2 separate regions of the Homo sapiens genome follow, and region 2 is linked to region 1. Evidence: fine-mapped expression QTL. A gene starts in region 1. The other region holds a variant in brackets. All regions are shown on one strand. Distances are between the middles of the regions. Region 1 holds the start of SLC10A7 (solute carrier family 10 member 7). Region 2 overlaps SLC10A7 (solute carrier family 10 member 7).

The links. PIP is the estimated chance that this variant, and not a neighbour inherited with it, causes the effect.
Region 2: its variant is fine-mapped to the expression of SLC10A7 in blood mononuclear cells (TOPMed, PIP 0.98). The same link has a PIP of 0.9 or more in whole blood.

The regions. Positions count from the first base shown.
Region 1 is chr4:146,519,188-146,524,575 of GRCh38, reverse strand. SLC10A7 (solute carrier family 10 member 7) reads left to right here and starts at 2,636. Exons shown (of 12, transcript NM_001029998.6): 1 at 2,636-2,958. The coding sequence starts at 2,859. RefSeq lists enhancers at 1,789-1,868, 2,039-2,458, 2,469-2,548, 2,769-2,838, 3,279-3,508.
Region 2 is chr4:146,253,825-146,259,212 of GRCh38, reverse strand. SLC10A7 (solute carrier family 10 member 7) reads left to right here. Exons shown (of 12, transcript NM_001029998.6): 11 at 376-521; 12 at 2,693-5,232. The coding sequence ends at 2,722. Among named protein-coding and RNA genes, the nearest start is that of REELD1, 42 kb to the right of the region's middle. The variant C/T (reference allele first, on the strand shown) is at 3,024.

The DNA.
Region 1 (5,388 bases):
AGTAACATGCTGTATAGGTTTGCAGCCTAGGAACAATAGGCTATACCATATAGTCTAGGTGTGTTGTACACTACATTATTTAGGTTTGTGTAAGTACACTCTATGATGTTTCTCTAATGATGAAATCGTCTAACCATACATTTCTCAGAATGTAACCCGGTGGTTAAGCAATGCCTGACTGTATTAATTATTGTTCATCTCTTATTGTGCCTAATAATATAAACCAAAAATTATCATCATAGGAATGTATGTATAAGAAAAAATACCATAGCATATATAGATAGGGTTCAGTACAACCAGCAGTTTCAGGCATCTACCTAAGGTTCTTGGAATGTATCCTTTCAGGATAAGGGGGGACTACTGTGATTGAGTTAAGGCTCTTGAGAGATCATTTTGGATTATCTGGGTAGGCCCTAAATCCAATGACAAGTGTCTTTATAAAAGATACACAGAAAAGGAGGTGCAACGTGAAGATGGATGCAGAAACTAGAATAATGTGGCCACTAGAAAGAAATACAGAGGGGAATGTGATGTGAAAACAGTGGCAGAGATTGGAACACTCTAGCTACAAGCCAAGGAAGGCACCACCAGAAACTAGAAAAGGCAAGGAAGGACTCTCCCCTAGAGCCTTCAGCGGGAGTATGGCTCTGCCAAAATCTTGATTTTGGACTTCTGTCCTCCAGAACTGTGAGATAATAAATTTCTGTTGTTTGAAGGCATCCAAGTTCGAGTATTTGTTTCAGCATCCACAGCAAACAAATACAGGCCTTAAGAGAATATAATTCATGGTACATTATATTCTTTTCCTTTAAGTACCATTAAAAACAGAACAAAAAAATCTCTGAGTTAGATTCTGCTCTACACAGATCAAAGAGGTATTAGTAAATAATTTGTGAATAGCTGTACAGTTAAAACAGCTCAATTTCTGTAAACTTAATGTTTAATGATGTTTTAATACAAAACTATCCCTTCAATGACTGAGACGTATGACTCTTTAACCTACTAAGAAATTACTATAAGAAAATAATTATGTTGTAAACTATCTTTCATTTATCTTCACTTATCTTCTGACTGCCTGACAACTAACATCAAATTTTATATTTCATGTACCTGTCTCTTTTCAGAGTAAACTGCTTAATGTCATCTATGTCTCCCTGTTAAGTTCTTTTTATCTTGAAATTAATTTTTTTTCATGTTGCCTGATGTATAATTAGATGACACTTGGTACTGTGTAACCTACAACTGGGAGCACAACTCTTAAAGTGGCTTAGTTTCTGGAAGTCTTGCCATCAAGATAAAGCTAAATTAAATAGAGGAAATGACACGACGAGTGTCTTTCCAGCTTTGAATAAATTCAGAATTAAAGTCTGTCATCACGAAACAATCTCTTCCAAACCTTAAGTTCTATTTTTAACCATTTAAGTGGCAGATGCCAGGTTATTTCAAAATATCACATACTATTTTCTTTCTTTCTTCATTTGGATGAATGATACAGTGGAGTTCATGCTCTTGCAGGGTCTACCGGTAGGAAGTCCATTCATGAAACCATCAATGTCACTGGTTGCCACAAGACATTTCAAGGAAGAAACTGGCAGATAGAACTAGCACTCGTGGCAATGGAAGGTAGGACTCCCCAACCTCTCAGACTCAATCCCCCACCACTTCCGCGTTGGAATCCGCGACCCTCTTCCCAGAGTTTTCCTGTGGCTTGGGTAGGTCAGCCCTGGGGGCGAGCCAGAGCGGGCACCCGCGCGCCCAGGGGCTTGCCAGCGCAGACCCCACTCCGCCCGCGAGTAGCTTAGTTGGTGGGGAGACTTCAGCTGTCACTCTCGGCCCGCAAAGGCAGATCTGCCCCGATCCCTGCAGCCCTCCCCAGTCCCGGAGACAGGTGTGGGCCGCAGAGGGAAGGGGATCCGGACCAAATGCCCACCCGCAGGCGAGCGACCTGGCGAGGTCGGGCCCACCTTCCTTGGGTTGTAGCGGACGCCGGCAAGCAGGGGTCCAGCGAACGTGGGCATCTGCCCGGCGCCGGATTTTCAACCCACCGCCAGAGATAAGGCTCCCCGCCCACCAGCGAGCCACTTTCCCGCGCGGACACCTCTAACTCCGGCAGCTCAGGCTGGGAACTCGGAGATCCAGAGTGGCCTCCCCTCCCCCCCGCGCATACGTCAGCGCTAGCGTCGTGGAAGCGCCGTAATGTCCCGAAGAAGCGCGTCTCCAAACTTGCACCCCGCTGCCGCAGCTTCAACGGAGAAATCCCTTGCCCCAAGCACACGTCAGCCCTGCCCGCGGAGTCATGGCACAGCAAAAGAGAGGCTCTCCATGGAGATATGCTCCAGAAGGGTGGGTGGCTGTGCCTAAAGGTTTGTTAGAAAAGGACAGTCAGTGAGGCTTGCTGGCTGTGGCGCCTTACGACGCTCTCCCCGACCCCTCGTCATTCAGAAGGTTCCGCAGGTCTCGACAGCGGTGCGCTTGTCAGCCCCATCCGGCGGCCAGCCTCCCTTGCCGGATCGCCCACGTTGTCGGCCTGGTCCGAGTTCTTCATTTCAAAGCATCTGCACCTGCGAGCCCGCGGCCAGAGGCGCTGGGGGCGTTTGTGCGCGTGTATTCTGAGGCGCGTGGTAGTGATGGCGGCGCTCAGTGAGACTTTCCTGTCACTGGCTACTACTACTCCCAACCCTCCTCAAAGCCGCCGGAGCAACCCCCAGGTCTTTACTTTACAATCGGCAATTTGACTTGCTCTGCTGCATGTCTGGAGGGACCAAGGAAAGTGTGGAGACGCTCCAAGGATTAGGTGATCGGAGCTTGAAAAGAAAAAAAGCCAAACAAATAAACAAAACCCACCCACCCTAACAAATATGAGGCTGCTGGAGAGAATGAGGAAAGACTGGTTCATGGTCGGAATAGTGCTGGCGATCGCTGGAGCTAAACTGGAGCCGTCCATAGGGGTGAATGGGGGTAAGTGCTGCACCTCTGCCGGCTCCACCGCGGCTCCCACTTCAGAACTAATTTGTGAGTCTTGGAAAGGTGGGGCAACCCTCATTGCAAGCGCTTGCCAATTTCAGGGGGCACTGACCAGCCTTTGGCCCTTTTGCTGATTTTCTAATTTACCAACCCCAGAGGGAACTTGTAATTAGGAACGAGGCAAAGGAATTTGAGGGCAGGTAGCCTTTTCCGTAGACAAACAATGACTATCCTGAGTGTCAAGAAGTGAGGTTACAGAGAATGAAACTTACTCCTCTTGCCTTCAAAGTAGCATCCTATCCCAAGGGAATCTAGGTTGCTAAGAGTTCCGTATCTATCTTGGAGTGGACCTCATTATCGAGTCTACTTTCGAGTCCTCCCCGCCCCCACATTAAAAAAAAAAGTGGAGGAAAAACAAGAAAAGGGACACCTCCGCCCCCAACTCAGATTTTATGGCCCACATGTTGGAGAGTGATGATTTGCTGTAGTTGCTGGTGCTCCAGAAACTCCCAAGCCGACTGACACGTTGCACTCTTTGATTACAGGACACTTCATTACAGCATACTTCCGTGTGCTGCCGGGATTCAGTTGCTATACTAGCAGTCTAACAGATACAGACTGTTAGACTATGTGTAGTGTAGTGTAGTGTGTGTTTTGGCAAGGAAATGTGGATGGACTGAAAGCATACTTAGATCTCTGAATAGTGGGAGCTTTGTACAGGAGATGATGGGCACTGGTGGGAACATTAGAAATATTAGTTTTTTATGCCCCCCCCAACACCTTTAGACAATCTTGTACTACTTTTCATAAACATTAATTGAATTTATTCAATTCGCTTGTCTTTTTGACCTTGTTTGTCAGTTTCCAAGCTTATTGACAGGTTTAATACCTAACTCATGCAACCGGAGCAAATAAGGATAGAGGTGAACAGGCACAATATTTCATAGTAGGAAGCGCTCAGGAGGATATTTGAAGTTATTTTTATCTTTTTGTTAAAACATGATGGAAGTGAATGAAATGATCTCTTAGGAGAACAGCAGTGGTCCCTTCTCCCCTTAACCTCCACCCCATTACTCTGTTTAGAAGTAGCTTCCGGGAACATTTTAAAAGGAATTATTTAAACCAAAATTGTGGAGATGAAGGATTGTTTGTTTTAAAATTTTGTTCTTCTGTATTCAACTTAGAACAAAATGTGTAGAATATGTAACTGTGAGAATAAAGCAGTTATTCCTGGTGGTTTCTCCCTCTGATTGATGGTAATAGTTTCTTCTTTAACACTGCTGCTCTGTGAACTTTTGGGAAACTCTTGTGAAGATCAGGTCTGTCAAATGAAGACCCCCTATCCCCGGAGCTAAATGAATAGTAAGACTTAGAGTACCTTTGCATGATCTGCAATGCACACTTCACTAGCTATCGCTTCTCGTGTTAGATCTCTTATTTGCTCAGTTTTGAGATGAAATTACAGAGGATGTATGATCTTTAACTTTAAATCTGCAGGGGCTAAGTTTGGCAAAATATCTTTTACCTTGCATTCCTAAATATTCTGTGGGAAGAAAGGTGTTGAATGCTGAATCATTTCCGTGGGGCTTTTCTGCAGTGGCATGTATGAGATAGATTCTGCAAACTTATGTGTTCCATAGACTCTGCTTATTAATATTTTGGTACATTATTGTATCATAGAAATGCCATTTCCCATTTCCACTAGTCCTTCTGTCTTTAATGTAGGATAATTCATTCCTTTGTTTAATTATAATAGAATGTTAAGAGGGGGAGGGGAATATTTAAAGTGTTTTAAGCCAACATGCTTCTTTTACAGTTGAAGATACCAGGTGACTCTCTCTAGGTTAAGGTAGCTAGCTTAGGGAAGAGGAACTATTGGAGACCAGGGTATTTAAAATTCCTGGGAAACTTCTACTTCCCAAGCAAGCCAGATTCCTTGACTTTAAAATCTGCTCCTGAATCACCTTGCTTAGCTGCTGAAGAAATATTACCTGTGTGAGCTGCTGAGACAGATTCACTAACAAATATAAAGATAATGTACCTCTTATAAAAGTTTTTGAGCAGCCTTCACTGCCCCCAAATGCAATGCCTTTTGCACTTGCCTTCTCCCTTTCTTTCCCTTTTCTTAGATCTCAGCAAAATGATTTGTGTAAATGCCAGGCATATTAAATAATTTATTACAGCATTTGAGGAAATCTTTGTTTCTTTTATTCATTGTTGTACTACAAATGCCTAAGACATAGTAGGTCATCTCTCTCTATATATAGATAATATTATATATTATGTTAAATAATGTATTATATATTATCATATTATATATTATGTTATATATTGTATATAATATGTTATATATTATATAAAATATATTATTATATATAATATATATTCTCTCTCAGAGGGGCCTTGAGATATTATGTATATTAT
Region 2 (5,388 bases), 270 kb after region 1:
ATCTCACTACTAAGCAAGAAGAGATCCATTTTTAGCATCTCCCTCACCAATATTTTTCAGCCTTCTTAAAGCAACTCCATCACACGCAATCTTCTCTCCTCTCCTTGTTAGATAAGCTTCTAATTTGCCGTGAGAATTATTGGTACCCTCGAATACTGACCATCTTTCCACCTTATCCTAGTTAGAACTTTATGTCATGAAAGAAAGATGGAAAGTTTTGGTGACCCATTTCAGACTTTCCCATTTCAGTTCTGTGAATAAACATGAGAAAATATGGTAATAACCTATTCCAAAGTTCTGATTTTGATGGAGTATGCATTTAATTTGATGACAGACTGAATTTGGTTTAGGTTTTCTGTCTTCTTTGTTCAACAGGAATTCCGATGCTGAAGATCGTGTTTGCAGGCCATGAGCATCTCTCTTTAATATCTGTACCCTTGCTCATCTACCACCCAGCTCAGATCCTTCTGGGAAGTGTGTTGGTGCCAACAATCAAGTCTTGGATGGTATCAAGGCAGAAGGTGAGTCCCCAGAAAGATCTTATTTGGATCCAAGTTAGATTAAAATGCTGTTCCTGAATCTGAACTGTTCATACACTTTCGATTTTGCTTGCATATCTTTGTTTTCAAGTACATATTTTCTTACTTAAATACAATAATAATGGTGCACTGATCCATTCCAATTTGAACAGGAGGGTTGAGGTTAAAGATTTTAAATTGTTATAAAAGACAATTATACTTAACATGCAGTTTTTACAAGCTCTTTTGAATTCATTCATATTGAAGGGCATATTATATGGGGTAAAGGTTCAGTAAATATACTCCAAATAGATACCTGCTCCACTCTGGTGCATACCATCTTTGCCTCAGTCTTTCATCTATGTCTTACTTCACATGCCTTTCCAAATAAGATAGAACCTGGCATTATCCAGGTTGCCTACTTTATTTTTAATTTTCCAGATATATAATAACCTATTTGTACAGCAAAACTGCATTTGGGCATTAAAAAATAAACTTTAAGTAGCTAAGAAGTCCATGCAATGTTAATTTCACCACACTTAGAATCTTGTACACATTAGATATTTGTGGATTTCATTTCCTAAATTATCAACAAAATAAGTAAACCAGGTGATTCACAAGAAGTTTAGATGGTGCATATCACGTGGTAGCATTGATAGAACTGACTCCTTCCCAGTGATTTGGACATACCAGGACTTATTTTTGTCTATTCACAAAGTAGTGACTGTTATCAGGAGATGTGTGGGAAGAAGAGGTATCCAATGACAAGTGCCCTGTGTCATGTTCTTAATATCCTGAAAATAGGATGGCCACAGTACCACCTATTGAGCACTGTGTGTGCTAAGCACATCCTATCCTCTACCTGGTTCAAAGGATGGATCTTGGGCCAGCCTGCCTGGGCTCAGAGCTCAGGCTGCTGGCCTTCTCATCCTGTAACCTGGGGCATACTTTACTTCTCTGTAGCTCAGTTTCTGCTGACTAATGATAATATCTACACCCTAGGGTTGTAGAGGATTACGTGATGAGTGTTTGATAATGCTAGCTGCCATAATTATTATCATCATTGTTCATCATTATCTACAATGATGTTCACTGCAGGCTTTGCTCTCTCCATTTTATGGGTTAGGAAATGGGCTCAGGGAGTTGAGCAGCTGGCCTGAGACCATAGGGTAGTTCAGCCAGTGCTGGAGTTAGGACCTGAACACTGGGCTATTTGACCCCCAAAATCTTTACCCAACACGGTGATGACACTCCAGATAGAAATGTAACATCACTTTTAGAAGGTTTGCCCTAGGCACCCAGGATCCTACCTGAGAAGTTCAGCCCATCCAACATGTTCACTAATTCAGTTATTTAACAAAATGTTAACATAAAAAAGATTCCTCTTCTATGCTGGGTACCACTCCAGGCTCTGAGCCTCCTACTCGGAGTTGGTTGTGGAACAGTTCAGTAACTTTTTCTTTCTTTTACTGTTTATCCCCTTTGAAATTTTCTATTTCTATTTATGCTTATGTTTATCAATATGTGTGCAATTGTCAGTCAGAATTTGTACATGTAAATTTTGACAAAGAATGAAGAAAATTATTTGAAAATCCTAATACTCATCAATATTATACAGCCATAGTGAACAGCAAATTAATCAGAGTGAATTTTTCTTCCAAACATTTAAAAGCTCTAGAATTTGTTCTGTAGAATAACAGAAGCATTTCCAAAAGGGAGACTAAATTGTACACTGTTGTTCATTTTTCCTTTGTGTAGAAACTACTCCAAACCAGGGGGCCACTGGCTAACTTGAATAATCCAGAAGGCTTGGAATATCTATCCATCAAATTTGGGCATTAAAATAAATACCAAGAGTCCATCCTCCAGGTATCCATGAGTGCCTCCTCTGCTTTGCACACAGTACTGATTGAGACCCAAGGCTACCATCTAGTGCACAGGGGAACCATACGAGTAGCCAGGCCAGGTGTGGGAGGGGAAATGACAAAGTCTGCTGGCCAGAGAGGTGGGCAGGGAAATCTGTTTGTATCCAGAGGTTTGGATTATTGGTTATATGATGCCATCTGGGTGGGCCTCTTCTTCCTTCTAATAGCATAAATTATCTGGTGTTAATTGATGCTTTCACTTTCCTCATGGATACTGTCCAACTCTGAACATGTTTTCCTTCCTTGTAGGGAGTGAAGCTGACAAGGCCGACAGTATAACAAAGGAGGTGGACTTTCTGTAGCAATGTATATATGTACAGGATTGTACATACTAGCAATTCTGAAGACTTGTACTTGTGAATGTTGCCTCAATGCATATTTTATTTTTTTACACAAAAATATGAGATCCTGTTTAAGTGCCTTAAAATGTATTTGACAAGAGCGTTATTTCCAAAATATGCTTTGTTGATTACTGCCAGGGGTGGTACAATATTTGGGGGTTAATTTTGCTTTCCTAATGCAGGAATCAGTCATGGTAAGTGACAAAAAGCAAACATGCTTTCCCTGCAGCACCTTTGTG[C/T]AATACAACCCTATAGTAGTTACTGTAATGTTTGAAATGAGGTCACACCATCAGGAAAATGCCCTTCTGATGACAGTGAAAATTTCCAAAGTCTTATTCATGCATACTTTGATTTACTGTGTGATTCTTTTTTTCTACGACTGTGACATGCCTCTTCCTTATCAACTCAGCAGGGGTCATAGATCGAATAGATGCTGAAAAGCGTAAGATATATGCATTCCTTGACATCATTTTTAAAGACATTCCTTCAAATAGTTTCCACACAGAAATTCCTCACTCCCATTATGAGAGATTGTGGTTATATGTCTTAAATTTATTATAAGCTGCTTCAAAGAAAGGGTCTGAATGTTTGAATTATGAGTGAAATCATGTGAAATTTTGAGTTAAACTCTGTGATTTGATTTTCAGGGTCTTTAAAATATATCTTAATATCTTCTTCCTCTTTATTCAATAATTTCTGTCTTGCACTTACACACTCATAACAGCCAAATATGAGGCACAAAAATGTTACAATCAGTTTGAAAGCAGCATCAATTAATGGTAGATTCTATTCACATTCCACAACCCAGACCAAATTTTTTTCCTATTACGCAGATGTGCTGAGCACTTTCCAGATTGCCCCTGTTGGCCAAAAGCAGCCTGTTACATCCTGGAATTAAGCACACTTAAGGTATTTGAGACAATTTATTAATGAAAATTTCCTTGGCAGATTTGACAAATGTTGGCAATATTTTTTTAGAAGTTAAATCATATTGCTTTCATGAATAAATGAAAATATAAAGGTCATGGATGCAAACAAATGTTACATATACACATTCTGTCTCTCCAGATGAAAAGAACATGCAAAACCATTTAATAACCAAAATATCAAGTAAAATTAGTTCCCAACGGGGCAGCAGCTTTCAAATGAGTGTCCAATATTTGCTTCTGCTATAGCTGCAAGAACTGTAACTGGACCCAAGTAGAGAATGAAGCCACGTATAGAACTACGAGAACACTTTTCTGTGTTTCCCCCATGCCGTCCTGTCACATCCTCTTACACGTCCTCTCTTGATTTGATAGACAATATTGGCATCCTGGGTCTCACTGAGGCCGTGCTATGTCCTCAGCAGCTGTTTTTGTTGTTTCGTTATTATGCCCACAACAAAAAATCATTCCTTAGAAACTCACCAAGTTTATCTACTGTGTAAATTTATATTATTGTTACTACCAGGTCTCATCTTTTGTCAATGTCATTGAATAAATTTCATAAGAGTTATTCTCAGTGTGAATTTTAAGGCTAATGCCAGATCCTGCAAAAATCTATGCTAACCAGGCTGTAGTACACACTGTTATAAAGAATTTTACTTGTGTCTAAAACTACAGTAATTTTGCTTAGGTAATTGTGCTTACCTATGGAGCACAGGAAGGCTCTTAGGTTTTGTTCCTACAAGTTTCTTTGAATTTTGGAGTAAATGGAAGTGTCTGTCTGTCTGTCATCTATCTGCCCTATCATAAAAATCTTTCTCCCTAACATTAAAATACTGATCCCCGCCCCCAACTTATCTACCTCTATTGTCTAACACCTATAGTAGGTGTGATCATGGGATAAAATTCAACTGAAAATGCTATGATAACATTTTATCGTTTGCTTTAAAAATGTGCTTTGTTTTCAAATAATCTTTACATAGTGAACTTTGGTGGCGTTAGTGATATGTTTATGCCTATTTCTTTTTTTTACACAAATTCCTTGGCATATTTTTTCATAAAGAACAAAAAATAAAATCAAAATTTATTTTTAATTCATGCTTATTGGGATTTAATTATTCAGAGCTTAAAATATTTTGTTATGTTTATACACTGTAAAGCTATCTGTTTTATGCATTTGTTTTGTCTAAATGTATTTATGAAAGAAATACATTAGATTATATTTATGTTTACTCATTTTTCCACCTGGATTTTTTTTAATGGTTGTTACAAAATTAGATTTTTTAATGGGTAATAATGTTGGTATTTTCATGTTTTTTCTTAGTATTAAAATTTTTGTGGGTTTTTTAAAATTTTTCCCTATTCTGTTAAAAATTAACACACCTCTAGCTAATGTTCAGTGTTTGTGCTAAATACCAAATTTTTTCAAAAGGATTGGTTAAGTCATAAAGTGGATTATTTATGATGACTGGAAGATGAAAATAATTATATGATTAAACAAAGAATGTTTCAGAAATCACAAGAGAAACTGTGGCTTATTTTTAACCTGATTTCAGATGGCCTTGTGATGCCTTCTAAGTGTCTTTAGATTTCTCTTGATTCATTTCTGCACCGTTATGTCATTTGTCGTTATATAGATGTAAACTTCATAGTCTCCCGGGTATTTCTATGGGTACCT